7 separate regions of the Homo sapiens genome follow, and regions 1, 2, 3, 4, 5 and 6 are each linked to region 7. Evidence: fine-mapped expression QTL. A gene starts in region 7. Each other region holds a variant in brackets. All regions are shown on one strand. Distances are from middle to middle.

Region 1 (4,067 bases), 87 kb after region 7:
TCTCCTTTCCTGCCCGCAGGAAGCCACGTGGGCTTCAGTGGCCGTTTTGATTTGCGCCTATGAATCAGACGCTGGCCAGATCACCCTCCATAGCCCCTGCCCACGCCTAGGGAAGGACAATGGGGTCAGCCATGCGGTTGGCCAGGTATTGAGGGCTTGTTCATGGTGTCTTTGTGGGCCTGACAGAAGCCTTTGAGGCCATTAACACCCAAACCCTTCCACTCAATGTTGGGCAGGCTGAGAACTCTTCTAAGAATCTAAGAGTCAGCCTGAAGTATCGGGTGGGGTGGGGCTTCACTAGGATGGCAGCCACGGTGCCCTCACCCTCACCCCAGGCAGTTCCATGGTCAAAAGGCTCACTCTGTCCCAGGCCCTCCTCTCTAACGTTGCCCTCCCTGTCACAGACTGGGATGACTCAAGTCCTGGACTGCCCCCGGGCCAGCTGTCACCCGAGTGGGGTGGGAGTGGGGTGACTGCCTGCCCAGCGGTCAGGGCAGCAGCCACCCAGCTGCTCATTAACTCAGAGGCAGCCACTGGCTTCAGGGAGGCCCTCTCCCCAGGACTTCCCAGCCTGTCCATGCTTGAAGAGCTCTGTTTAATATACATATATTTTAAATTTGCACATTGGTCCTCTACCCAATACGCATGTTAATAGTAGGTACACTTCTAGTAACTGTCGATGGAGATATAAGTTTGTAAAAAGCTGCTCTGAGGTTAGCGGTGTTTTTAACGTAGGCACCATGAGCACAGGTATACATTTTGGAAAACAACACTGGAGGGTATAAGGGGCTTGGACTGCTTATGAATGCACAAAGCTAGTTCCCAGAGCCCTCAGGATGGAAGCCACAGGTTTAGGGTCCCCTTGAGTTCCCAGTGAGAGCTGGACTCAGCAGTGTGCACCCAGACACACACATTCCTGCTCCACTTGGGCTAGAATTAGCATGGTGACCATGCCATCTCTGAGACCTTCCAGGAACCCTTTGATCTCAATGATGATGAGGCTGAGGCCAGAACCTTCCAGTACCTTCTCAGTCAGTGGTTTTCAAACCTGGCTGACCATAAATGAACCTTCTGAAAAAGCTCTTTAAAAATGCAGATTTCTCGCCAGATGCAGTGGCTTACCCCTGGAATCCCAGCGTTTTCAGAGGCTGAGGCAGGGAGACTGCTTAAAGCCAGGAGTTTGTGACCAGCCTGGGCAACATAGGGAGACCGTGTCTCTACAAAAAATTAAAATTAGCTGGGCATGGTGGCATGCACCTGTAGTCCCAGATACTTAGGAGGCTGAGGCAGGAGGATGCTTGAGCCCAAGAGTTCAAGGCTGCAGTGATCTGTGATTGCACCACTGCACTCCAGCCTCAGCAACAGAGAGAGAGAGAGAGATGCTGTCTCAAAAAAAAAAATGCAGATTTCAATATCCATCACCTGGCAACTGGATCAGAATTTCCAAGGCTTGGGTCCTGGGCTGTATTTTTTAAAGCTCTCAAGTCCAGGCAACACACAAAGAAAATGGCATGTCAATTCCATGGATGCCTCCAAAGGTGAAAATCCCAAAAAAATTATGGCACTTCTATAGAACATTACAGTAGTCCTGTGGTGGAAACTTCTGAAATAAGAATTATTCCCTTTTCTAGGTGAAGCTTTTCTTAGATTCCTTTGGTATCTGACAGATGAAGTTTTGAGACACCAACAGATGGAGGCCAGTTAAAAGGCTGCTCATCTCTGGTCATCTCTCTTTCAAGGTGCAATTTCTCCTGAGCCTGAATGTCCTGGACTCCAGAACTGGCGGCTCATGTGGCCCCACAGGTGGACACAGATGGGTTTGGCTGCAATCCACAGGCAGGCTCTGAGACTGGGACTCGGTGGGCACGGGGTGTTCTGGCTCTTGGTTATAGCCTTTAAAGCAGAAAGCACAGGTCTGGGCCATAGCCTTCCCAGGCTATGGGAGCTGACCTTCCTAGGAAGGGGATCACAGATCGTGGTGGAACTTGCCTGAGTTCATGGGTCCTGATTTGATCTCTCAGCCTTTCTCCCTGAGAAGGAAATATCCTCATATGATGGGGTTGGGGTGTCCCTAGGGCTGCCAGAACAATGGCCCCAGGACTGGTTGAACAATAGTCTATGACTGTAATTTTCTAGGGCATCAGTTTAAAAGAAGAAAGGCTTGTGATCGATCTGCTCCAAGAGAGACCCTAAAAACTGATAAGTCACACCCATTCTTGATAAGTCTCTTGGCAAACTAGGAGTAGAAGGGAACCTCGTTGAGATAAATGTGCTTACTAGAGTAAGCCTGGGACTGAATGGTAAAACCTTAGAAGCATTTCTTCTTTTGCTGTAGGGAACAGGGCATGCATGCCTGCTCGTTAACCACTCAATTCTGTCTTGGGAGCTGACCCAGCACAGCAAGCCAAGAGGAGGGACAGAAAGGAACAAAGCAGTCTTCATTCCAGGGGACATGATTGTCCACACAGATAATCCAAGAGGATCAATGGCAGACTCTTAGAGCAAATGCAAGTAAGGCTCAAGGTGGCCCGATACAGGTT[A/G]CCCCATAAAAAATCATAAGGTGGCCAATGCCCCAGCAATGGCCAGTTAGAAAAAGTAACGTAAAAGAGATCCCAGGCATGGAGCACAAGTTACAGAGACCACAGGAAGCGGGAGGACTTCATGCTAAGTGAAATAAGCTGGACACAGACCGACAAATACCGTATGATCTCACATGTGCAAGCCGAGAAAGTTGAACTCATAGAAGCAGAAAGTAGAATGGTGGTTACTTTGAGGAGATAGTAGTCAAAGTATACGCAATTTCAGTGGGGAAGAATAAATTCAGGAGTGATCTGTTGCACAACATGGTGACAATAGCTATAATAGTGTATTGCATTCTTTAAAATTGCTAAGAGAGTAGATTTCAAATGTTCTCACTGCAGAAAAATATGTGAGGTAATGCATATATTAATTAGCTTGATTTAGCCATTCCACAATGTACACATATATCAAAACATCGTGTTGTACACCATAAATATATACAATTTTTGTTGGTTAAGTATTCTTTTTTTTTTTGAGATGGAGTCTTGCTCTGTCGCCCAGGCTGGAGTGCAGTGGCACAATGTCGGCTCACTGCAAGCTCCGCCTCCCGGGTTCATGCCATTCTCCTGCCTCAGCCTCCCAAGTAGCTGGGACTACAGGTACCCGCCACCACGCCCGGCTAATTTTTTGTATTTTTAGTAGAGATGGGGTTTCACCATGTTAGCCAGGATGGGTTAAGTATTCTTATATTTAAATATATATATAATATATATTATATATTATATTACATACAATATATTATATAATATATAATATATTACATTATATAATATATTATATAATATACTATGTTATATAATATATTATATAATATATCACATTATATAATATATTATATAAAATAATATATAATATATAATATATTATGTATTATATATAATATACATTATATATATAATATATATATAATATATATAATATAATATATTATAACATAATATATATTATATAATACATAATATATTATATAATTATATAATATATATTATATATTATAACATAATATATATTATATAATACATAATATATTAATTATATTATATATAATAATATATAATATATATTATATCATATATAATATATTATGTATTATATAATGCATAACATATATATGATATAATATATAATATAAAATATAATATATAATATGTAATATATAAATATATAATATGTAATATAATATATAATATGTAATATAATATATAATATAATATATATACATATTATATATAATATATAATATGTATATATATTATATATATTATATGTTGGTGAGAGGATAGAACGAAATAGACTCATACATTTTGGGGTCACATTTTATATATATATATATATAATATATATATAGTACTCAATGCCAGACATTCTTTTCAGTGTGTTGACTATTCTGTTCTTGCAACACCTTTAAGAAGTTGGCATCATTTCCAGAATAGGCAAAGAAATTAATGGAACAGGCCAGGCGCAGTGGCTCATGCCTGTAATCCCAG
Region 2 (4,067 bases), 520 kb before region 7:
AAATTCCAAATTGTTTATAGTAGAATAACAGGTGATTATTATTTTCTTCTATGTTGCTTATCTCTGTTGTCTCAATGTTTGTTGGAAAAAATAAGTGTATTGCTTTCAAAATAAGAGGGAAAAAAAGTAGTCTGGAAAATTGTTTTCATTGCACATCTGTGGGAGTTGAAAATTGAGCCTAGAGCTTTTAAGACATTCTTGTATTCACGCATCTCAACAAATAATACTTATGGCCTAAGGTAAGCTAGCCCTGTGGTACTGCAGAAAAACCAAAGACCCACTACTTGCCCTCTGACAACTTATAGTTCTGCCACCCAGACAAGAGAAAATCCTTGTCTGGGTGACAAGGATTCAATCCCTGCCTTTGAGGTGAGAAATGAGGGCTCACCTCTGCCAAGGGCCTCTGAGGCTTCCACAGCTCCTTGGACTGAGGTTGGAGCCAGCACTGCCTTCTGTGCCCTGAGGGTCCCAGGGGATCAGGGTGTGGCTGAAGTAGTCTGGGCCTGCAGCTACTTCCTCAAGTCCACTCTCCCACCCGGACAGCCTGTCCCACTGCCCTTGGACACCCACCTCGTCACACTCTTCTGTTTCTCCCCTTCCCATCCTCTCTGTCAGGTTTCTTCCAGGCCACCTCCAAAGAGACCTGCTGCTCCACCCCCAATCTGTTGCTTGTGCCTTACTAGAGGTTTCTACCCTTTTCAGCGCCACATCCCAGGGAAGGAAGAAACATGCTCCAGGGCTGGAAGTTTGTCTTTGAGGGGAGGAAGTTCCCTGGAGTCTGCAGCAGATGGGGGAGGCCCCAGTGGGGCGCACGTGGATGCATTTCTGGGAGGAAACCAAGTACCATCCGCTCTCGCTCGCTCCCTTCCAGTGTTTTCTTCCCCCGGCGAGTCTCTTAATTTTACTCATTTATCTTAAAGAGCTCCGTAAGCGCCGTGGGCTCTGGTACGGGGTGGGGGGACGCACGGGGCCTCCGACACCCGACCCCCACGCCTGCTTCCCAGAGGAGCCGTCCAGCGCGGACCAAATCTCATTTTCCTACAAATAGTTTGTCAGAAGCAGGAGGGCAAGCACTAAACCACGGAGAGCGAGAGCGGAGAGAGAACGGGGAAGACTGGCGAGGGGAGGGCGGGCCCGAGGGGGCGGAGGGAGGGTTGGCTGCGCAGAGGGAGTAGCGCGAGGGAGGGTGCGAGCGGCGGGGAGGGGCGCAGGCCGGGGAGAGACAAACGGAAAAGGAGGGAAGGAGATCGAAGAGACAAACAGGAAAACACGAGGGAGGATGAGAAAGGGAGAAGGAGCCAGGGGAGTCCAGGGAAAGGAAGCAAAGGGAGAGGGAGAGACTGAAGAGAGGAACGGAAAAGACTGGAAAAGATAGCAAAGGGTGAATCAGGAAGCAGAGAAGGGGAAATGAGAGGAGAAAATGAATCCAAAGAGGATGCGAAAAAGGAGGAAGGAGAGAGGTCTGGTAGAGAGGCAGACCCGGAAAAGGAACGTGGGCAAGGGGGTGCTCCATGTGTCCTGAGCCCCCTCTATGCCCTGAGCCACAGGGGTGCCTGTAGTCTGACTCCTTGACCCTGTCTTCCCCATCCTTATCCCTGCTGCCTGCTCTCCGTGGACTGATGCAGGATGCAGATAAGGATGGGCTCATCTTGGTCCACTGTTAGCCAGCCTAGGAGACAGTCATTGCAGTGTGTGTGTGTGTGTGTGTGTGTGTGTGTGTGTGTGTGTGTGTGTG[TGTGTGTGTGTGA/A]TGGAGACAGGGAGGGGAACCTGCATACCAACTATTATGATGAAGACATGCGTCCTTAAGCAGGCTACTTCACTCTTCTGAGCCTCAGTTTTCTGATCTAGAAAATGGGAACAATAATCTCTCTTTGCAGTCTTGGGAGAATTGAAAGAGATGACCCACAGGAAAAGAATCTACCACAAGGTGAAGGCTGTTGGTTAGGAAACGCAGCCTCCCTTGAGTTTCTGTGTGGGTGAACCTGGCTCCTGGGGCCCCACGTGGGAGTGCCAGGCTTCAGAATCTGCACACTGCTTCACCACCCCCGCAGCCTGTGATCCCAAGCCAGGCCCTCTGATCCGGCAGCTGTCAACACAAGCACACTCCAGTGCTTTCTGCTTTGCTGTTGGCCTCCCTCGGGAAGCTTTGAACACTAGTGAGATCATCATTGTCAAACTCTCTGGGCTCTGGTGCAAGGGCAGTCAGATAAGGAGGAATATGACGTGCCAACCCTCCTCTTTGGTCCCCAGCCCCCAGCCTCACCCTGCTGACCTCTGGCTCCTGCTTAGCTCAGGAACTGTGGGCTCAGAACAAAGTTTGAGGTTCTGCTTCTCTGATTCACCCCTTTCTCCTTCCTGATTACTGGCATGGAGCCAGGCACTGCAGGACAGAAATCAGGTAACTTTACAGATGGGAGGAATGAAGTGGTGCTTGTAGGGGCCTATGTTGTGCTGGGCACCAAAGTAAACTGCATGAGGACAGGGACCTTGTCTGCATGGCCCACAGAACTATCCTAGCACAGTGCTGGCACATGTTGGTTCATGAAATGAATGAGTCATTTGATATTGTGAATATGCATTCACTTATTCACACCTTATGACTAAAAAAAAAGCTGTTATTCCATTTTATGGAAAGGGCAACTGAGACACAAAATCACAGGAAGGAAGTGATCAAACCAGGGGTTGAATCCAGAGCAATCTGTCTCCAAAGCATGTGTTCCTTCCGCTGCAGCCCATGGCCTCCAAGCATCCTGCCCGTCGATGCCTGAGGCACCAGGGAGTTAGGAATGGCAGAGACCCAAACCCGTGATTCCTGCTGGACCTTCTCCTTCCCCTTAGATTCTGGAGAGGGCACCCCATAGAGCACTCCATTTGAGGTGGTCCCTTCATTTCTGGGCTCTTGCCATTGGCATTGTCCTCTAGCTCTGGACTTCAGGCTATGCCACTCTCAGACCCTCAGCCCTGGCCCCCTTCCCTACTTGGAACTTTGAAGATGAGGACACGTGCCTCAGAACTTCTCTCACCTCAGCTCTTAGGACCCCAGCCATACCTGCTCTGTCCCCCTCCCGTCTAACCCCCCAGCAACGTGGGCTTCCTCTGGGGACCTCATGTCCAACCCTGACAAGCAGCAGAGCCCAGGGAAAAGAGAATCAGGTTCTGCTCTCCTGCCATGTACCAGTTAGATGACTCTGGGCAATTCTTTCACCTCTCCAGGACTCAGTTTCTCAACTGGAAAATGGGGATTTTTAAAAAAATCCATGCCTAACTCCCAAGGCTGTCATGAGAATGGATTAAGGCAAAAGCTGTGAAAGTGCTTTACAAATGAGAAAGCCTCCTATTTTTCACTTTCTTCTGATGGCAGATCCCCAGGTCTCCTTCCCAAGGTTCTTGCTCTCCCCGCACAATGTACCCTGAGCACTGCAGGTGCCTGTCCACCTTCGCTTCATGAAGAACCATGATATGTCACCATATAAAATCCAAATAAAGCCTCACGAGTGAATCTACTTACAGGAGACAGAATAAAGCAATGACTAAGAGCTCTAGCAAGAGTAAAAAATCAAGTCTCCAATTTTTAGCTCTTCCACTTACTAACAGTGTTAACTTTGAACAATCATTTTACCTCTCTAAGCCTCAGTTTCCCCATCTATAAAGTGGGATAATAATAATACCTGTCTTATCAGGTAGATAATGTATATGTAGCATTCCTGTCTTATCAAGTAGATAATGTATATGTAGCACTAGGGACATATTAAATACTCAATAAATGGCTTCTATTGTTATCTCCTCTTATTTTAGTCTCGACTCTTGAAAAATGAATCAGTTGTCAGACTTCATAGCTTGTCACCTCTCTCTCGATGGCCCCAGTGTCAGTTCCTTGGTGCATGTCCTTGTTTTGTCCTCCTTCAGTGATGACCACAGCCTCCTTTTCTGGCCCCCAAGTCACCCACCGCACTGTGTTCTGACCTTATCACCACCATGGGTTCCCAGGGAGCCAGACCACATGAGGAGGAGGGAATGCAGATGAGGGGAGGGGACCTGCCCAAAGTCACAGGGGTGCTACATGGGCA
Region 3 (4,067 bases), 900 kb before region 7:
CAGGTTGCTGTGTTCCAGGCCAGAGCCTGCTCATCCCACCCTGGGGCAGGGATTGCAAGGCCAGCAGAGCACTTGCTGCTCCTCTGGGCAGCTGGGACAGCTTTGCCACACAGCACACACTCTTCCTCCTGCTGGGAATATCCAGACCCCACTCAGGCAGGTTCTTGCTCCTCAGAGGCTCCCAGTCTCAGCTCCTGACTCTGGCCACTGGATCCACCCCTGGGCTCTAGGCTTCTGCTGCTGCTCCCAGGGACTGCCAGCACAGAAAGCTCTTAGTAGTTAGTGCAGAAAACACTAATCTGGGCGAAGAATACCCAGGCCGGACACCTGGCCCTGCTCTTACCCTGCCAGGTGGCCTTGGGCAAGTCATGCCATTCCCTGGACCTGAGGCCTAACCTCTGGATGGCCTGGGATTCGGCCTGGGTCATCCAGACTTGAAGATGATGGCTGGTGGGCTCTACTTCCCTTCTCCAGGTGAAGAATCTATTCATTCATTCAGTCATTTGACATTCAACAAATATGTATTCAACACTGACTTTGTGCCAGCTTTTAGGCACTAGGATACCACAGGGAACAAACCTAGCAGTAATCCTTCCCCCTTTAAAGCTGATGTTCCAGGAGACCCATGTGCACAGGGTGACATCACTAAGCATTCTGAGATTAGATGGATGGATGTGTGGATGGATGAAGAGATGAATGAATAGATGGATGGATGGATGTGTGGATGGTTGAACAGATGAATGGATAGATGGATGGATGGATGGATGGATGGATGGATGAATGGATGGATAGATGGGTGGATGGATGGATGGATAGATGGGTGGATGGATGGATGGATAGATGTTTGGATGGATGGATAGATGGACAGACAGATGAATGAATGGATGGATGGATGGTAGATGGATGGATGGATGGTAGATGGATAGATAGATGGATAGATGAATGAATGGATGGAGGAATGGACAGATAGGTGGGTGGATGCATAGATGGGTAGACAGATGAATGGATGGATGGATGAATGAATGGATGGTAGATGGATAGATGGATGGACAGATGAATGAATGGATGGAGGAATGGATAGATAGGTGGGTGGATGCATAGATGGATAGACATATAAATACATGGATGGATGAATGGATGGATGGTAGATGGAAAGATGGATGAATGGATAGACAAATGGACAGGCAGATGAGTGAATGAATGGATCATTGGATGGATGGATAGATAGGTGGATGGACAGATGAATGAATGGATGGAGGAATGAGTAAATGGGTGGATAGATGCATGGATGGATAGACAGAAGAATGGATGGATTGGTGGGTAGATGGATGGATGGATAGATGGACAGACAGGTGAGTGAATGGATGAATGGATGGATGGTAGATGGATAGATGGATGGACAGATGAATGGATGGATGAATGGATGGGTAGATAGGTGGATAGATGGACAGACAGATGAACCAATGGATGGACAGGTAATGAGGAAGGGAAGAAGCCTGGGCCCCTGCTCTCCTCCTGCTCTCCTCCTGCTCTCCT[T/CCTGCTCTCCTT]CCTGTGGCCGCATTTCCATCTCAGGACAGAGCTCACTGGCTGGCTGGGTCTCCTGGATAGAAAGTGAAGGGGGCAGTGGCCTGACTGAGGCAGGGCTTGGGATGACAGTAGTTGGGCTCTGGGGAGACTTTGGTGATGGATGGGCTCGATGTCAGGGAAGGTGGCCGGGGAGGAGGTGGTAGGGGATGGGCTGAGTGTTATGGGCACAGGGGACACAGTTCAACCACGTGAGCCTGCCTCTCTTCTGCCTCTGTCTAGGTGGGAGACTCTCTTTGGGTTTGAAAACCCCAGTCTGAGATGTGCTGTTTCCCTTGTGCCCCACCAGGGCCCAGTGTGTAGCGTTCTGGGGACACCGGGTGTTGCTGAGAACGAATCAGGGAGCCATAGTCAGGGGGCTCAGTGCAGGGCAGGGGTGAAAGGAGCACCGGAAGCAAGCAGGCCTGGGAGTGGGGCATTTATTTACTATTTGTTGGGGCCATCCTGAAGGGGGTGCCCAGCAGGCTGGGGTGGCCTGCCACAGCCCTCAGTCCTCTCAGTAAGTCTGCAGCAAGAACCTGCTGGAAGCTGCAACATTCACAGCTGCAGGATGGGCAATTGGCTCTATGAGTCGGGCTCTGCTTCCATCTACAGGCCTAGATGTGAGGGCAGAGGAGCACTCAGCCTGCCGAAGGTCTGCACAGCTGGCCGGCAGCGGGCAAGATTGGAATTCACTCACCATGCAGCTACTGGGTGCCTGGCTACTGCTGGGAAGCAAGCTGAGGGCAAAGACTGCCCCACAGGGGCAAGATCGGGGCCCACCACAGGAGGTCACCCCCCAGGCATGCAGGGCACAGAGCTGGGGGGAATGAGCTCCCTCCCCATGCACCCCTCCCCAGCTGTCCCTGAGTCACTAGCGCCCTTCCCTTTCACTACCAGGGAGGCTCTGGAGCTGCTTCCTATCCCCCACTGTCCTGTGAGTCACCGCCCCACCCTCCAAGTCCCTCCCACATGGTGTGATCAGCATCCCTGCCTCTGCCCACGAAAGTGATTTCAAAAGGCAGAAGTGACAGGTGGTGGGTGGTTAGGCGGGCAGTGCCTCTCACCTCCCCATCCATCTCTCTTCTGTCAAGTGGGGCAGCAGCAGGGCCAAGAAGACTGAATTCAAAGCATCCTGGAAGGCCTCAGGTTGTCAAGGGCCCCAGGCAGCGCATGAGGCTTTGAGAGGGGCCCCTGCCTTGTGCCTGGGCAGGCTCCTTCCCTGCTCTGCACACTGTGTCTTGAGCAGGCTCTGGAACCCACCTTTCCACTATTAGAATGATAGACGGGCTGGATGTCAGGAAGGTGGAGTGTGTTCCTCCAGGTCACAGCCCTGGGCCTCTATGACAGCCCCTTTGAGATGAAGAGACCTGGGTGAGGAGTCTGCAGCGGGGGCGGTGGGGGCATCTTCAGTGCTCTGGCATGGGTTCATTCCTCAGGATGCTCCTGCAGCCACCCCAAGCTGAGGACAAGGCCCAGATCCACAGTGGCCTGGGAAGTGCTCCCAGCAGAGTGAGCAGAGCTGGGCTTCGGTGCTGTCTGCCCTCTGTCCTGCTGCAAGGCTAATCACCTTCTGGTTCTGGGCCTTGAATCCCTTTTACAGCATGGGGGCTGGATGCTCTTTGAGCTTCCTCCTGGCTTCGATCCTGGAAACTGACACCTACTTGTTTGCAGTTGTGTGACTTGGTCAAATCGTGTAACCTCTTGAGCCTCAATTTCATTCTGTGTGAATGAAACAGTGAAAGCCCTGAAGATTAGATTTTTGATAGAAGAATTGTAACAGCAGTGACCCCATAGCCCTTTACCATTTGCAAGGTGCTTCAGACAAAATATCTCACTGGTCCCTCCCAACAATTCTGCCACAAAAGGTGGTATTACTTTCATGCCCAGCTTACAGTTTGAGGAACGAAGGCCCAGCTATGGGGGCAGGTGCAGAGGTGGGCCTCGCTTCCAGGTCTCAGTCTCTGGATGAAGGGCAAGATCCCTGCAGCTAAGGACGAGGGAGTGGTGGCACAGAATGTCCGGCCTGCTGGTCTTTCTTTCCCAGCCTGGGGCATCTCTGTGAAGGCCGATGAGCGGAGGCCCCTCCCCAGGTGCTGGTGCCAGGCGGCGGGGAGCTGCTTCTGACAGCTGTGCAGAGAATCATCACTTCTCCATCGCTGCTAATAGCATGTTTAGCTTGCTGACTCCTCTGTTTGCCTGGTGCCTCCCACGGACCCAGAGCTTGGAGTTTCTTCATTGCCTGGGGTGGGGCAGGGTGGCAGAGGGGCATCTCTGCTCCCTGGCCCTGGCTGCAGCCAGCAGCTCCACCCAGGGCCCTGAACTTGGGAGGCGACTGCAGTTCCATGCCTTGGCTCCCAGCACCCCAGGGAAGTACATCTGGGCTCTGGAACAGCAGAAATGGCCTCCTGCAAATCTCCTACCCGACACAGGACCAAGTGTGGGAAGGCTCTGGTCCAAGGGGCTTTCTCCAACTCTCTGGACCACAGGGAGCCGGCAGGATGGGGGCCAGTCC
Region 4 (4,067 bases), 460 kb after region 7:
ATATTAAAAAAGAACCCAGAAATAAACCCAAATACCTAAGAGCCAACTGATCTTTGCCTAAGCAAACAAAAACACAAACTGGGGAAAAGACACCCTATTCAACAAATTGTGCTGGAATAATTGGCTAGCTACACGTAGGAAGTGAAACTGGATCCTCGTCTCTCACCTTCTACAAAAATCAACTCAAAATGGATTAAGAACTTAAATCTGGCTGGGCGCTGTGGCTCATGTCTGTAATCTCAGCACTTTGGGAGGCTGGGACATGCGGATCACCTAAGGTCAAGAGTTCAAGACCTGCCTGGCCAACATGGCAAAACCCCATCTCTACTAAAAAAATACAGAAGTAAACCAGGCGTGGTGGCATGTGCCTGTAATCCTAGCTTGGGAGGCTGAGGCAGGAGACTCGCTTGAACCCAGGAGGCAGAGGTTACAGTGAGCTGAGATTGCACCACTGCACTCCAGCCTGGGGCTACAGCAAGACTCTATCTCAAAAATAAATAAATAAATAAATAAATAAATAAATAAATCTAAGACCTGAAACTGTAAAAATTGTAGAAGATAACATTGGAAACACACTTCTAGACATTGGCTTAGGCAAGGATTTCATGACAAGAACCCAAAAGCAAATGCAATAAAAACAAAGATAAATAGGTTGGAAATGATTAAACTAAAAAGCCTTTGCAAGGCCGAAGGAATGATCAGCTGTGTAAACAGGCAACCCACAGAGTGAGAGAAAATCTTCACAATCTATACATCTGACAAAAGACTAATATCCAAAACCTACAAGGAACTCAAAGAAATCAGTAAGAAAAAAAAAAAACCTCATCAAAAGTGAGCTAAGGACATGAATAGATAATTCTCCAAAGAAGATATACATAATGGCCAATAAACATATGAAAAAATGCTCAACATCACTAATGATCAGGGAAATGCAAATCAAAACCACAATGCAATACCACCTTACTCCTGCAAAAATAGCCCTAAGCAAAAAATCAAAAAACAGCAGATGTTGACATGGATGCGGTGATCAAGGAACACTTCTACACTGCTGGTGAGAATGTAAACTAGTACAGCCACTGTGGAAAACAGTGCGGAAATTCCTTAAAGAACTAAAAGTAGAACTACCATTTGATCCGGAAATCCTACTCCTGGATATCTACCCAGAGGAAAATAAGTCATTACACGAAAGATACTTGCACATGCGTGTTTATAGCAGAACAATTCGCAATTACAAAAACCTGGGACCTACCCAAATTACCATAAAACAACAAGTGGATAAAGACACTGTGGTGTGTGTGTGTGTGTGTGTGTGTGTGTGTGTGTGTATACACACACAATAGAATATTACTCAGCCATAAAAAGAAATGAATTCATGGCATTTGCAGCAACCTGAATGAGACTGGAGACTATTATTCTAAGTGAAGTAACTCAGGAATGGAAAATCAAACATTGTATGTTTTCACTCATAAATGGGAGCTAAGCTATGAGGATGAAAATGCATAAGAATTATACAATGGACTTTAGGGACTCAAGGGGAAAAGGTGGGAAGGGGGTGAGGGATAAAAGACTACAAATAGGGTGCAGTGTATACTGCTAGGGTGATGGGTGCACCAAAATCTCACAAATGGCCACTAAAGAACTTACTCATGTAACCAAACACCACCTGTTCCCCAATAACCTATGGAAATATATTTTATAAAAAAATTATAGAAGGAAAACAGCTATAATGTAGAATTTTATATGCAAATAAAATGCTATTGAACATTGAGAGCATTTTAAAAAATATTCCCAGACTCATCCTCCCTCAAGTGGTTTGCTACCCAAAGCAGGGTACTAAAAACATTTTTAGAGAAACTATTCAAACAAGAAAGTCAAATATAGATGGTATGTCAAGAACTATCAGATGTACAAATCATCTGATGTCATAAAAAATTTACTGTTATTCATTAATTTTCTTTTTAATAAATGTTTTATTGTTGTTTCACACCCCTAAAAAATATACAAATCATAAACATAGATCTCAATGGGTATATCATAATAAACATTCAATGGATATTATAAAATTTAAAAAGTAAGCTACTATTTTGCAATAAACATAAATAACCATGCAAGTTAG[A/G]GAACTAGCTATTACTGACAACCCAGAATTCTCCTAAACTCATTCCTAGGATAATATTTGCCTACCTTTTCCGGGTAACTAATGTCCTGACTTTCAACAATTTTCTCATAATGCTTTCTGGGTTTTCATTTTCAGATTTTGTATTGTAGTTAGTAAATTAATTCCTGTATAATTGATATTTCTGATGTTATTGTTAGAGGTATCTTTTTTTCAAATTTCAATTTTAGAAGTTCTTCTTTCCTTAAAAAAGAAATGCAATGGATTTCAAATATTATCTTATAGTCACATACCTTGTAAATGTATTCATATAATAGTTTATCTGTAAATTGTTCATTTTTTTGGTGAAAAATTAGCTTAATTGCTTCTCCTCAAGTTCTTATATCTTTTTTATTTCTTCTTTACTTTCTCACTAGCAATTTTGTCAGGTGTAAGGTTGAGCAAAGTTGATCATAGTATCATTTTCTCATTCCCAATGTCAGTAGGAAAATGTTCAACACTTCGCCATTACAGAGGTGTTCATCACAGTCATTTTGGAAGTAGCCTTTAATAATTTAAATATTTTTTCATCATTGCAACTTAGGTAATAGGTTTTGTCACTCATAGACTTTGGAATTTTTTTTTTTTTAGTTATAGAGAATGTCATATAATTTTTGGCTTTTATTCTGTTAAGAAAACACACTGCAGTTTTAAAATTTTGAATATGAAAACATGTTCATCCCTGTAACAAGCCCAGCCTGTTTGTGGTTTATATATTGCTGAGTTTTATGTATAATATTTAATTTAAATTATTTTTAGCTAGGTTGTAAGAGAGACTGGCCTGTTACTGTCTTTTCTTCTAATGTCCTTGTCACATTTCTATGTTAAAATTATCGGTAACCTTATAAAACAAGCTGAGAAATTTTTCAGTAGGGGAAATATGTAAATAATGTTAGTTTTCTTTCCTGTTAATATGTTTTGAAGAATTCTCTAGTGAAACATCTGGACCTAGAACTTTTGTACATATATGAGAAAAAGTTATTATGGATTTTAAAAATAGTTACAGGAATATTCCGATTTTTATGTCTTCTCATGTCAGTTTTGGTAAGTGACATTTTTCAAGTTTTTTACAAATTTTATTTAAACTGTCAAATATGTACTGCAATAATGTAGCTCATAACTTTGAATTTCTTTCTTCTATAGGATCAGTAGTAATACCTTTTCTTTTTATATTACTGTGCTCCCTCCCTCCCTCTCTCCCTCTCACACACTTTTTTTTGGTCTCTGAATTTTGTAAAAGGTTATTTTAACATTATTACAAGGAAAAACTTTTGGCTTTTTTTGATCCCCTTGATTATGTGATTCTTTTTGAATGTATTATTTTCCATTAATATCTCTTGTATGACTTCTATTTTCATTGGATTTGGTTTACTGTTTGGTTTTCAGCTTCTTTAAATGTACCATTTTTAAGCATGTTCTGTTTTCAACCTGTGGGTATTTGGACTACTGGCATTTAATCTTTTATTCTTTGCAATATCACCATTAAGGCTATAATTTTTTAAAAAAAATCAATAGCTTTAGGGATAAAGGGTTTTTGGTTACATGGTTGTATTGTATTGTGGTGAAGTCTGGGCTTTTAATATAGTCATCACCTGAATAGTGTACCCTGTACCCACTAGGCAAGTTTCCATCCCTCACTCCCCTGTCACCCTCCCCGCTCTGAGTCTCCAATGACCATTTTACCAATCTGTATGACTTTGCATAACCAAGGATATCCATTTTCTTGAGTTTCAATATCTCATACATTTATTCTCCTTTTCTTTTCTTTTTTTTTTTTTTTTTTTTTTGAGACGGAGTCTCGCTCTGTCCCCCAGGCTGGAGTGCAGTGGCGCGATCTCGGCTCACTGCAAGCTCCGCCCCGCTGGGTTCACGCCATTCTCCTGCCTCAGCCTCCCGAGTAGCTGGGACTACAAGC
Region 5 (4,067 bases), 210 kb before region 7:
TGGGGTTGGTATTTCAAATCTGAAAACAAGATTTGAAAACACGGTCTGCTTCTATGTGCAGAGCCCTCAGAGTGTGGCTCAGAGTCGAGGGGTCCTGTGGTCACAGGGCAGGCGGGGAGCGTCAGTGTGCCTGGCGGGCTTGCGGCATAAAAATAACCCGCGCAGCTTATCGACAAGTTATTATTACCCCGTGTGGCCGGGGCCTTCTGGCCCCATGTGCTTCTCTGTGCTTTCCTGTTAGCTGCCCTTAGCCCAGTGGAAGCCAAGCTGTCGGGGTATCGATCAAGCCGGCTCTCAGAAAGGTTTTCCTCCCCAAAGCGGTTTCAGCTTTTCGCCTGCAGCTATTTTTAGAGGCTTGGGCTCCGCAGATGGGGCCTCTCTCCAATGATCCTGTGTGGCGGGGCTGGGGAGGAGCCCAGGCCAGGACCCCACAGGGAAGCTGTCTGGGTGGGGGACAGGCTTCTCCTTCCGCCAGTGGGTAACACCAGGCTTTGCTCTCAGTGCCCAGCTGGGATGAGCCCTGGAGGCTGCTCCGGCTGGGATGTTTTCTAGATATTTTTGGCCTATTTTCTGGGTAACAAGGAGTAAATTCTGAAAATGGAGGTCTCACATCCCACCGTCAGCAAACCAGGCCTCTGAGTTAAGCCCTGATCCCTTTGAAAATGCAAATTCCCGCTGGGTCACTACCACCCGTGTGTGTCTCGGGGGCTCCCTTGACCAGGCAGAGCTGGATGCAAACTCTCAAATGGAAGAAAAGGCTGAGAACGTGGTGCCGGCCCAGCAAAGTCAAACACCCCAGAGCTCACTGGCCCAGGGCCAGCCACATCCACTCATTCCCAGGGTGACTCACAAGATCCTTCCCACCCAGGACCATGGCTCTCTCGACAGCCCTGACAGTGACGCCAGGGTAAGGATTCACTCCTGCAACCACAGGGGCAGGACACGTGGGAGGAATCCGCGAGGACCTACCTCAAAGTGGATGGCCCCGTTCCCGTCCGCATCAAAGGCGTTGAAGAGGAAGTGTGCATAGGTGGTGGCATCTGGGGAGGGCAAGGAAGAGGCTGGGGTGTGTCGGGGCTGCCTGGCGGCTCATCTCCCACCCCAGGCAACCCCAGCTGAGGGTGCTAACTGCGTCCTGGCTTGGAGTCCCTGTTTCCCACGGGACAGGGGCAGCACCAAGCCTCCAGGATGCAAGGGGCAGCAGGAGGGTCCCCTCCCTCCACACTGGGACACAGCAGGGCTGCCCTGCCTCAGACTCACCTCCCTGAGGGAAGAACTGCGCGTAAATGAGTTTGAAGGTGTCTTCGTCCACCAGGCCCGTGGGACACTCCTGCAGCAGGAAGGCACCCCCTCAGCCCTCGGCCACCCCCAGCTCCAAGCCCGACTCTGCATGGTGCCTGGCTGGCCTCTCTCCACCCCCTTGGGGGCTGCCTGCTGCCTGTGGCACTGCTGGGGCCCCCTGGCCTGGGTTGTGGAAAGCCTGGGTAGAGGTGGGGTGAGAGGGAGGAGGGGTGAATAGGAAGGGGGTGACTGCTCCCCCATACCCTCCTCCTCTGTACCAGCAGCAAAGACACGGAGGGAGGAGCATGGCGGCCTCAGCGATGCCCATTCCGGAGCCTGCCCCCGCCACACAGCTTTCCCACAACACATAAGCCCCTTAAAGGCCCCTGGGATATTTACTGTGGCATGGAGAAGTTTCCAGGTCTCCCTGAGCCAGGGTCTCCAAGGCCTCTCCCGGGGGAATGGG[G/C]AACACTCACATTCTTAAAGCCCCTGTAGAGAGACTGCAGCTCCTTCTTGGTGAACTTGGTCTGGGCCTGCAGCTGGTCCAGCCCCTCTGGCTGGTGGCGCACCGTGGACAGCTCCAGCTCACTGTCGCTGCTATCTGGAGTGGGACACAGACCAGAGAGTGTAAGGCCTGTAGCCCTGCTCCTCCATCTTGCTCCAGTGTGGCCAGGGCATGGGCCAAAATAGCAGGTGGAGGAACTCTCTTTGCATGACTACCATGGACAGCCACACAGGCTGTGCACTGCACAGAGGGGGTGTGACTGAGTGGCCCACACAAGAGCTGTGCCTCTGCTTTCCTGCCCCCCACAGGGCGGGCCTCCCCATCGCAGCCCCTGCAGTGTGCCCCCCTGTCAGCCGCACAGTGGGACAAGGTGGGAGCTGCTCTTGTCCTAAAGAGGCACTGAACAAGGGGATATAGGAGGGGGAAAGACAGCAAGACAGGCATGAGGGACACTTGAACTTCAGTATCCAATTCCTAGACCACTTCCTCCATGTGGCCCTCCCTGACTTTCCCCAGGAATGGAGAGGGTGCCTCCCTTGGCCCTCAAGGCCTAAGGCGATGCTGTTCAGCTACAGTTGGCAGAGGGGTGTTATTCACATCTGGTTAGGAGGCTAAACCTCCAGGGCTGTGGGGGCAGGGATCAGACCTGTCCTTTAAAAACAATACACAAACTTGGCAGGGTGCGGTGACTCACACCTGTAATCCCAGCACTTTGGGAGGCTGAGGCAGATCACGAGGTCAGGAGATCGAGACCATCCTGGCTAACACGGTGAAACCCCGTCTCTAATAAAAATACAAAAAATTAGCCAGGCATGGTGGCGGGCGCCTGTAGTCCCAGCTACTCGGGAGGCTGAGGCAGGAGAATGGTGTGAACCGGGGAGGCGGAGCTTGCAGTGAGCCGCGATCGCGCCACTGAACTCCAGCCTGGGTGACAGAGCAAGACTGCATCTCAAAAAAAAAAAAAAAAAAAAAAAAAACCACAAACTTGTTAACTAACCATGGCTACATTTGAGGGGGAGGTGCAATTTCAGGTGATTTTTACTTTTTTATTTATGATTTTAAAAAACATTTTCCTAATTTCTTTTGGTGTGACATGCATCACTTTTACAATGCAAAATAAAGCTAGGGCTGAAACAGCACTGAGTGCCCACACCTTGCTGAGCAGCATCCTCGCATAATTACAGAGCGCCACCTTCCCACAGACCCAGGACTCATGGGCCCCGCTGCACCGTCGCCCTGTCTCCCCTGGGCCACACAGAATGGTGGTGATCCATAATCACCCTCATGGCTGGTACTCTGGTGCTGGCTGCTGCCTCTCCCACTGCACAGTGAGCTCTTCAGGGGCAGCTGTCCTGCACAGCTCATCCTGTGCCCGTGGTGCCTGGCATGGTGCTGGGCACTGGTCCTGTGCTGAGCTTGCTCCATACCCAGGCCTCTCCCGAGAGCGTGGTGGGAAAGACAGCCTGCACTGCCCACTCACACTAACCACAAGAGCACCCTGAAAGCTGCTCAGCAATTGGGCTGTTTCTTTGGTCCACACATGCTCCCCATCTCCAAGATAACTATTTCATACCATCCTTCCCCTTAAGTTTCCAGTATCTCCTCTCCCATCCTTACCCTCAGGTTGCTTCCCACTTCACTGAGAAGACACAAGCCATGGAGGAAAACTTCCCCAAGCCCTCACCCCACACCTACCCACCTGCCTGCACCTGGCCCAGACGTCTGCACGCCTGCCTGCTCCATGGCTGAACTGTGCCTGCTCCCAGCAAAGGCAAACCTGCCACTTGTGCAGTGGGTCCCGATCCCTCTCACCTACTCAGGCAAGCGGTGCCAGCCAAGTCTCCCACTCTTTCCTCATCACCTTTTCCCCTCTTCTGGATCATTCCCATCACCATATAGACATACTGTAGTATCTCGAATCCTTAGTCATATTAAGTATAGGCAAACCCTGTAAACCAGCATCCCACGCCAGGCAAGCATCCCACATAGACTCTTCCCCTGCCCAGGGGCCTGCACAAGGATGCTCACAGCAACAGCATTTTTGGCAGGAGAGTTGGAGGCAACTCAGGGGTTTATGGCAGGCAGGATGGGTAGGCAAAATATGGAGGCTGCACACTGGGGAGAACTGTGCCGTGGAGCAGATGTACACACAGCAGCGTGGATGGATGGATGGATGGATGGATGGTAAGAATCCTTTGATTAAGAGGCAGACTTTTCAGACTGGAAAAGCAAGATCCAATTATATCCTGTTTACAAGAGGGATACTCCTAATACAAAGATA
Region 6 (4,067 bases), 140 kb after region 7:
AAGAGGGAGGGAGTGTGCCAGGCCAAGGGGACAGTGCAGGTGAGTCCTGGGGCCAGGGAGGCCTGTGACCTGTGTGAGAAGGTGGCTCCTGGGCAGACCCAGAAAGGCCAGGGACAGGCTGGGCTCAGGCAAAATGCAAAGGGTATGCCGCATACCTTGAACTTAGTCCATTCCCTCTGTTGAACCCCAAGAGTAAGACCCCTCTTCTTCCCTGTTTGGAGCCCACCTTCTCTGCCCCAGAGAGGGACTGGACCCTGCGCCTCCACAGGAGAGCTCACAACCTGCCCAGCAAGTTGCACCAGGAATTTGGCCCACGTTGCCCGAAACATCAGACCTGCAGGGCTGGGCCAGTGGATCTTTGGAATGTAGTCTCAGCATGTTTGGGGCTAGGCTGGTTTGCTCCAGTGCAAAGCATCTCCCTTCAGGTTTCACTTACAGCACCCCTCAGATGGCCGCTGCCTGCCTTCTTAGACTCTGGAGTGGTTGTTAAGTAAATAACAGAATTTCGCAGATGCATCCTGCAATGACCTTGGCCCCAGGCCTTTCCTGCTCAAACTTATACTTCCACCTGGGGCTTCCTCCAAAGGCGCCCCCCCCCCCGCCCCTTAGAGTGAGGTCACTCCCTCGTGGACGACCAGGAATCCACCTTCTAGAGAAGCCGCCTGGCCCTATAGTCAAGGAGAGAGACTGTGGCAGTGGAGGCTCTCCTGATAGATACCCTTCTTCTTAGCATTCCTATTTTCTGTTGGAAAAAAATGCACCCTTACTTAGAAAACAGACAAAAACGGCATTGTCCTAATGCCCCCGATTCTTCCAAATCAAGGCAACTATTTTCATTTCTGCACATGATCTTTTAGAACTCATAGAGAGGTGAATTCGTTCCTTCTCTGAGCTTCTCTTTCCAGCTGGTGACTTGGCCACTCATTCAGCCTCAAACACACTCCCCTAGTGTCACACACAGGCTCTGCGAGCACAGGGAGCCAGGCTGGACAGGGAGGCACATGTGGGAGCCTGAGAGGTGCAGGTGTAGGCACTCCAGGGTGGGGCCATCGAGACCTTCGACAAGGCCAATGTGGGTTCTCCTCTGGGGGAAGAAAGCAGGGTCCAGTGAGGGTTACTGTTTCTTCTGTCACTGGAATGATTGGCCAGGGCCAAGCACTTGGAGCACAGCCAGAAGAAACAGGGCACAGGGACCAGCCCAGATGTCTCTGAGTTGGCACAGGGGACTTGGAGATCAGGAACAGCATGAGATCAAGAAACACATCAAAACCATAAAACTCAACAAAGCAGAATGCAAAAACTTGCTGCAAAAGAAGAATGGAATGTTTGCATGGAGGGTAGTAGGAAATTGCTACTTCACGTCTCAGTGCGTAGTGCTTAGCGCAGCACCTGGCCCATGGGCAGGGCCATGAGTGCTTCTTGAAGGACAGGGAGAAAGGGCGGGGAAAATGAGCTCACAGGCAGGCGTCTGGAAAGCTGAGGAACCCTCAGACCCCACAGGGCCTGTCCTGTTGGTTTCCTAAACTTGCTGCCCATGACACAAACTGTGTCCTTTGGGTGCATTGGTTCCTGTTGTGGCAACAGACCTGTTTTTGAAGCAGTAGGGCCTAAAGGAAAAGGAAGGAAAAGCTCTTGGCTGCCCCGGGTCTTGGTCTATGATTCAGAACTGCTAAGCCTTAGAAGGAAGGGAGGGGACTCGCCACTGCCCCACCTGGATGACAGATGAGGAGGCGCCCAGAGAGGTGCACCTCAGAGGCATGTAGGAAACCAGAGGCTGGTGGGCAGAGGGCAGCCACAGCTGTGGAGGGGAGGGC[T/A]GCCTGCATCCGACCAGCCCGGTTTGTTTGGGAGTGACCCTGACCGTGCAGGACTAGGCATTGCATCGTGAGGAGGATTCAGACCCATCCCCTCTGCATCACCTCCCAGACCCCAAACCCCCCAGGCCCATCTCTTTCCAGACCCCACCATCTTTCCAAACTCTCACTTGCCAGAACCCGTCACCTCTCGATCCATCACCTTCCCCAAACCCCTTAAAAAATCAGAGAGGTCAGAATCTTGGCGCTACCCGGTCCTCCGAGACATGACAGTCTCTCCCCACCAGCTCCAGGCCCGATCACTTGCTCTTTATGTGGGAAAGGACAGTCTCTTCTCATGAAGTGTTTAATCCACTTGGCATAGGAGGCCTGTGTCCAGGCTGTGGGATGACACCCTGCCGTGGGTGGAAAAGGGACAGTGGATGTCCATGTGCTGACACCGGAGGATGCCGGGACAGCGTCCTTTCAAGGTAAAAGAGGAAGTGGCAGATCCGTGCTTAAAGCATAATCCATTTTTTGCTTCTAATAAAATGTGTCTGCAGATACAGAGGTAAATGCACACCTGGACGGACAGAAACTGCGCTCCTCACAACGGCTCCCTTTGAGGATGGTAGGATGGTATTGGGGGGTGAGAAAGCACTGGGCTGAGGGCAGGAAACGTCATTTTTTCGTTAAACAGTGGACAAAGGATGTAGAATTTGCAACTGAAAACCCACTAAAGGAACGCACACCTTGGCTCCAGCCTGCTGATCTGTGGAGGTCGCCTCCTTCTGCCTGGCCGGGAACTCCTGTGTGTTGCAGAGCTGGGCAGGAGACCTCGGATGCCACATTTCTGGGGACATCCTCTTTCTTTTCCCTACCCTCACATGGTCCCATCCTCTGCGAGGCAGGGCTAGAGGCAGGGCTAGGCAGAAAGGGCTGCATGTTTGCTGTCCCGGGGCGGCCCGGGGCTGCTGAGCGGCCCCTCCGTGCTGGCCTCGCTGCCCTGTGCCTTAGCCTTCCTTCCCAAGAAGGGGTTGCCTGTTTCGGTGCCTGACACCTCTGACCTGGGGCCCCTGGCTTTCTCTTCTGCCTACTGCCTTCCCCAGAGTTGGCTGCACACAGGGTCAGCGCGGCACCTCTGTCTTCTTCACAGGCACCATCCTCCCTCTGATCACATCATGAATGTGCCACAGAATTCCTCCCTTCTGCCAGACCTCAGAGAGCACTCAGATTAGAGTGACCTCGGGGCCTGGATTAAAAATCTCCCTTCTAGGACGGCTTGAGCCCGGTTGGTGGAGGCTGTAGTGAGCCGAGATCATGCCACTGAACTCCAGCCTGGGCTGTAGAGTGAGACTCTGTCTCAAAACAAACAAACAAACAAACGAACTCTCCCTTCTGCTATTTCCTTGCTGTGCAACTTTAGACAAATTACTTGACTTCTCGGTGCCTGGGTTTCCTTGTCTACACAATAGTGATGCTAATCTCTCTCCCAGGGCTGTCTGTGGATTAAACGAGATAATGTGTGTGAGTGCCCTTGGCAGTGTCTGGCATGAGGCAGCGCCCGGGACATGACAGCTGGTGTTGACATAAATAGAGGCCCCCTGGGCTCCCCCAGGATTCTTTGCTGTCCCACACGTGCCATGCCCTGTCTCACAGCTTCACTCTCAGGAGAAAAGTTTTCTCCCCTGTTTGAATGCAGCTTCTGTTAGGGAACATTCTGGCTGTCACACACACACCCAGATCCCTACCTCGTCTCCAGGCTGTCACCTCCCAGGCCTAAGGCTATTTCTGTACCTACCCTCCTAGCAAGTGGTAGTTCTTGTTCTGCTCATTGCAGGAGGCACCGCACCGTGAATTCCTATACAGCAGAAGATGGGACGGCCACCTGAGCCAACCCCACAGCTGACAGCTGAGCCTCCAGCGAAACCCAAGGCTGACACAACGTGAGTGCCTCACTGTGAGCTCTTACAAGGGGTCACTGTGGCCTTGCGATGCTAGGGAAGGAAAGCAAATTCAAAAAGCTTCCAGGGTTGTCATCAGCAAATAAAGTCTCTCAGCCCCAGTGGAAGCCCAGCCTTCATGGGAACCCAGCTCTCATGGGCTCACTCTCTCTACGGCTCACCAGACTGCCTGGTGCACTGACGGGGTCTCATTAGCCCTTAGTCACCTGCTGAGGTGGCTCTAAAGGTTTCACCTCCGGTGGCCTCTCGGGCCTGTGAGGGAGGGCTGGAGCCCGCCCAGCTCAGAAGTATGACAGGGCAGGCTCACCACTGG
Region 7 (4,067 bases):
AAAAGTGAAACAGAGACTGCAAAAGCAGGAAAGGAGAATGGTCTCTTTGCCTTGATTTCGTGTTATTTTGTCTTTGCCTTGATTTTGTAAGTTATTTTGTCCTGAACTCCTAAATAGGGTTGATAAACCAATCTCTCTGTCCTCACAAGTGGCCCTTCTCTGGCTGAGGACTGCCTCCAGAAAACCACCGTTTTAATACTCAGACTGTGTCTTAGGCATTGGCGCTGCTATAACAGAGTGTCTTAAACTGGGGAATTTGTAAACAACACAAATTTGTTGTTCACAGTTCTGGATGCTGGGAAATGCAATATCAACGTGCCAGCCAGTTCAGGGGCTGGTGAGGGTACGTTTCTCATAGATGGCACCTTCTGTGTCCTCACATGGCAGGAGGAGCAAAGGGGGCTTAAGGCCCGTTTTTATTTTTATTTATTTATTTAATTTATTTTTTGAGACGGAGTCTTGCTCTGTCGCCCAGGCTGGAGTGCAGTGGCACGATCTTGGCTCACAACCTCTGCCTCCCGGGTTCAAGCAATTCTCCTGTCTCAGCCTCCTGAGTAGCTAGGATTACAGGCGTGCACCACCACGCCCAGCTAATTTTTAAATATATTTTTGGTAGAGACAGGGTTTCACCATGTTGGCCAGGCTGGTCTCAAACTTCTGACCTCAAGTGATCCGCCCGCCTTGGCCTCCCAAAGTGCTGGGATTACAGATGTGAGCCACCACGACCGGTCTAAGGGCTGTTTTTAAAGGGCACTAATCTCATTCATGAGGGCAGAGTCTTCCAAAGGCTCCACTTCTTAATACTATCACCTTGGGAGTTAGGTTTCAACATATGAATTTGAGGGGGACACATACATTCAGACCATAGCAGGCCGTTTTTCCATTTCTTTTGGGTCCTAAATGATATTTGTTTCTGGAGTAGGAGGGCGTTCAAAGTCCTCTTTTGTTCTTCAGCACCCTTCGCTGAATTCAGGGGCAGATGGAGAAAGGCAAGAGGCACGGGGCAGCCTGTAGAAGCAGTATCTAGCACTGAGTCCCCAGTATCCCCTAGGCACGCCAGGAGAGCCTCCTGGAAATCCTCACTCAGCAGATCCAGGGTAGGAACGCGGCTTCTGTTGAATAGCCTTACATCGAGATATGCAGGTTGGGGGCGGTGGCTCACACCTGTAATCACAGCACTTTGGGAGGCTGAGGCGGGAGGATCATCTGAGGTCAGAATTCGAGACCAGCGTGGCTAACATAGTGAAACCCCGTCTCCACTAAAAATACAACAAATTAGCTGGGCGTGGTGGCGGGAACCTGTAATCCCAGCTCCTACGGAGGCTGAGACACGAGAATTACTTGTACCCAGAAGACAGGTTGCGGTGAGCCGAGAGCGCGCCCCTGCACTCCCACCTGGGCGACAGAGTGAGGCTGTCTCCCCCCTCCCCCCAAAAAACGAGAGAGATATGAGGCTCAGCTACCAAAGTCACGCGCGAGAAGGGAAATGCTTGTAGGTCCCTGCCCTTGGGGGAGAGCGGAGTGAAAACCGGCGCGTGGCCGGCGAGCACGGCCCCTCCCAGCGGAGGTCCTACAGGCGCCCGCGAGCCCCGCCTCTCCAGCTTCGCCGCGCCAGCACCCCGCCACCGGCGCTGGCTCTGAAGGGCCCCGGCGGCGGCCGCGTCTGCGCAAGCTCGGGACGGCCTCGGGAGGCGGGGCTGGCGCGGGGCGGACGCGGGGGCTGGCGCGGGGCGGACGCGGGGGCTGGCGCGGGGCGGACGCGGGGGCTGGCGCGGGGTGGCGGGCGGGGGCTGGCGCGGGGTGGCGGGCGGGGGCTGGCGCGGGGTGGCGGGCGGGGGCTGGCGCGGGGTGGCGGGCGGGGCCTGGTCCTGTGAGCGTTCGGAGACTGCGGGCGCGCAGACCTGTACTGGGCCCGCGCCCCGGCCCCTTACAGAGCTGGGTGTGTCCCTCCGAGTGCCCCCCGCTAGGGACTGTGCAGGCCGGAGCTAGGCAGGGACAGCGGGGCGAACCGGGCTGATAGAGTCGGTCCCTGCTCCTGTGAGGCTCTCACCGAATCCCTGCTGTTTCCGGGCAGCTGAAGAGCGCTGGGCCCTCGCGTCGCGGGCGTGGCTGTGGCCGTGTCTCCTGGTAGTCTGAGCCCACTGTGCGTGTGGATCCACGTGGGAGCTGGGTTCCAGAGCCTGGTCCTGAGGAGGAGCCGAGCCGGGGGTAGGAGGCCGGACTTGGCGAGGGAAGAGCACGACCCCGGGCAGCAGTGCGCCGCGCTGGGCGCACCGGGGTTTGCCGGCCCTGCTCTGGGCCCTGCAGGTCCGCTGGCCCCGCCGCGCCTAGTGGGGATGCCCCGTGTCCCCCAGGCAGCCCCAGCCTGCGTCCCGCTCCCTGAACCCTCGGGAGGACCACAGGGCTGTGGCCGAAAGACAGAGATTTGGACCTAGTGAAAGGACGCCGCTCCTTAGCCCCAGCTATGGACTCCACAGCATCAGGTTTGGCTCTGGAGCGTGCAGAGGGCCAGGAGCCCTCTTGGGGAGCTAGTACCGAGCCCGATATCAGGAGGACCCCAGGAAGAGGCCGGGGAATCCCACTGAAGGGTGAGGCTGTACTTCATCTGCCTTCCGTGTGGCGACATCTAACCTTCCAGACCCAGAAGGCTGAAGCCGCAGTCTCCTGGGTCTGGCAGGGGTCTCTAGATGACCGTGGCGGAGGTGGAGGGGATGGCCATGGAAAATTGTCCCAATGGCCAGAGGAGAGCAGAAGAGGATCTGATCTCTTCCTGCTGCGGCAGGGAGAGGGCAAGCAAACCCAAGAGGGAGTGGCCCTTGGCCAGGGATCAGAGGACGATAGGGCCATTTGGAGCCTTGTCATCCACCTCCTTAATCACCTCACTAATAAGGTTCTTCCAGTCGTTCTAGCTCAGCGGTGTATAAGGTCAGCAGTGTACATGGTGGGTATCTCCTCTGAGCCCCTTCCCCCAATAGCGTTGGGGGCAGGGCAATCCAGGTGACCCAGGAGGTTTTAAGCCAGTCCTAAGTTTAGAACGTCCTATCTCTAACCAGGTGGGCATTTTAATCCGACTGTTCATCCTTCAGTGCACATGCTCAAGGACACATAACTGGCCAGTGGAAGAACTGGGCCCAGTCCGTGGGCTTCCCACCCCCTCTTTTTTCCTTTATACCCTTGTTAATCAGTGTGGCTCTGGGAACAGCAGAGGCATTGCCCAGAAGTTCTCTAGAATTGCAGACTCTGGGGCCCCACACATCCTCAAACAGTGTCTTAGCAAGTCTTGAGCCAGAGTTTAACAAGATCCTCAGGGATCCACACACACATGAAGCTTGAGGAATGCCTAACTGTGCTATGCTTACACCCATGTTGTTAGCCTTAACTACTTCTCTGGCATGGTTTGGGTTAGTTTTTTTGTTTGTTTTAAGGCTTTTATGAACAGTATGATGCAAAGCTTTATAATGAAGGAGCTCTCAAGTGTGTTGCAGAGACCTAACAGAGCTTGGGAACACCAGGGGCAGCTTCTCAGAAAGAGGTGGCCTCTGAGCTGGGTTCCCAAGGATGAGGGGAGAGGTGTAACTTCCTCCCCTTAAAGCCTCATAATCCTGCATGGCCTTGCCTTGGGTCTTGTGTAATTGTTAACCTGTAGGCTAGATTTAAAGTTCCTTGAAGTTCTTTTCCATATTTATATTTCCAAAAGTCCTAGGAGATGACCTGCATACAGTATGCCCAGTAAATAACTTCAGTGGTATGGCCAGACTGGTCACACTTCACTCACTTGTAGACTGATGTGGGCTGTGGACAGGTGGGAGCCTCATGCAGCTGTGTACAGGGGCACTTCTCTCAATGTTTGAAGGCTAGAAGCTGCCTCTCAGATCCTTTTGATCCACTGGTGTCCTCAGAACAACGGAGGTGACATTCAGAGCTGTTCTGGGTCTCAGGCTTGGGAAGTCTGAGAGCTGTGTGTGCTGGCTGGGTCAGCTTCCCTTATGTCTCCTTCTACCTTCCCAGCTTCCCCTTCTCAGAATCCTGCTCTTCCTCCAGAGAGATTCCCAGGAGAAGAGGGAACA

What was found. PIP is the estimated chance that this variant, and not a neighbour inherited with it, causes the effect.
Region 1: its variant is fine-mapped to the expression of ZNF514 in thyroid (GTEx, PIP 0.97).
Region 2: its variant is fine-mapped to the expression of ZNF514 in whole blood (INTERVAL, PIP above 0.99).
Region 3: its variant is fine-mapped to the expression of ZNF514 in subcutaneous fat (FUSION, PIP 0.95).
Region 4: its variant is fine-mapped to the expression of ZNF514 in whole blood (INTERVAL, PIP 0.98).
Region 5: its variant is fine-mapped to the expression of ZNF514 in whole blood (TOPMed, PIP 0.97).
Region 6: its variant is fine-mapped to the expression of ZNF514 in whole blood (TOPMed, PIP 0.98).

Annotation. Positions count from the first base shown.
Region 1 is chr2:95,070,407-95,074,473 of GRCh38, reverse strand. All of the region lies in intron 1 of LOC124907857 (a long non-coding RNA gene), which reads left to right. Among named protein-coding and RNA genes, the nearest start is that of MAL-AS1, 45 kb to the right of the region's middle. The variant A/G (reference allele first, on the strand shown) is at 2,541.
Region 2 is chr2:95,679,826-95,683,892 of GRCh38, reverse strand. No RefSeq gene overlaps it. Among named protein-coding and RNA genes, the nearest start is that of TRIM43, 90 kb to the right of the region's middle. RefSeq lists an enhancer at 124-624. The variant TGTGTGTGTGTGA/A (reference allele first, on the strand shown) is at 1,736.
Region 3 is chr2:96,061,715-96,065,781 of GRCh38, reverse strand. No RefSeq gene overlaps it. Among named protein-coding and RNA genes, the nearest start is that of GPAT2, 29 kb to the right of the region's middle. The variant T/CCTGCTCTCCTT (reference allele first, on the strand shown) is at 1,537.
Region 4 is chr2:94,695,393-94,699,459 of GRCh38, reverse strand. No RefSeq gene overlaps it. Among named protein-coding and RNA genes, the nearest start is that of FAM95A, 64 kb to the left of the region's middle. The variant A/G (reference allele first, on the strand shown) is at 2,117.
Region 5 is chr2:95,372,111-95,376,177 of GRCh38, reverse strand. It overlaps KCNIP3 (potassium voltage-gated channel interacting protein 3), which reads right to left. Exons shown (of 9, transcript NM_013434.5): 3 at 1,758-1,882; 4 at 1,261-1,330; 5 at 970-1,040. Among named protein-coding and RNA genes, the nearest start is that of FAHD2A, 29 kb to the left of the region's middle. RefSeq lists enhancers at 43-621, 1,203-1,782. The variant G/C (reference allele first, on the strand shown) is at 1,748.
Region 6 is chr2:95,016,747-95,020,813 of GRCh38, reverse strand. MAL-AS1 (MAL antisense RNA 1) reads left to right here. Exons shown (of 8, transcript XR_007087136.1): 5 at 3,631-3,736. Among named protein-coding and RNA genes, the nearest start is that of MAL, 6.9 kb to the left of the region's middle. The variant T/A (reference allele first, on the strand shown) is at 1,815.
Region 7 is chr2:95,157,381-95,161,447 of GRCh38, reverse strand. It overlaps ZNF514 (zinc finger protein 514), which reads left to right and starts at 1,600. Exons shown (of 5, transcript NM_032788.3): 1 at 1,600-2,208; 2 at 4,009-4,067. RefSeq lists a silencer at 1,524-1,773.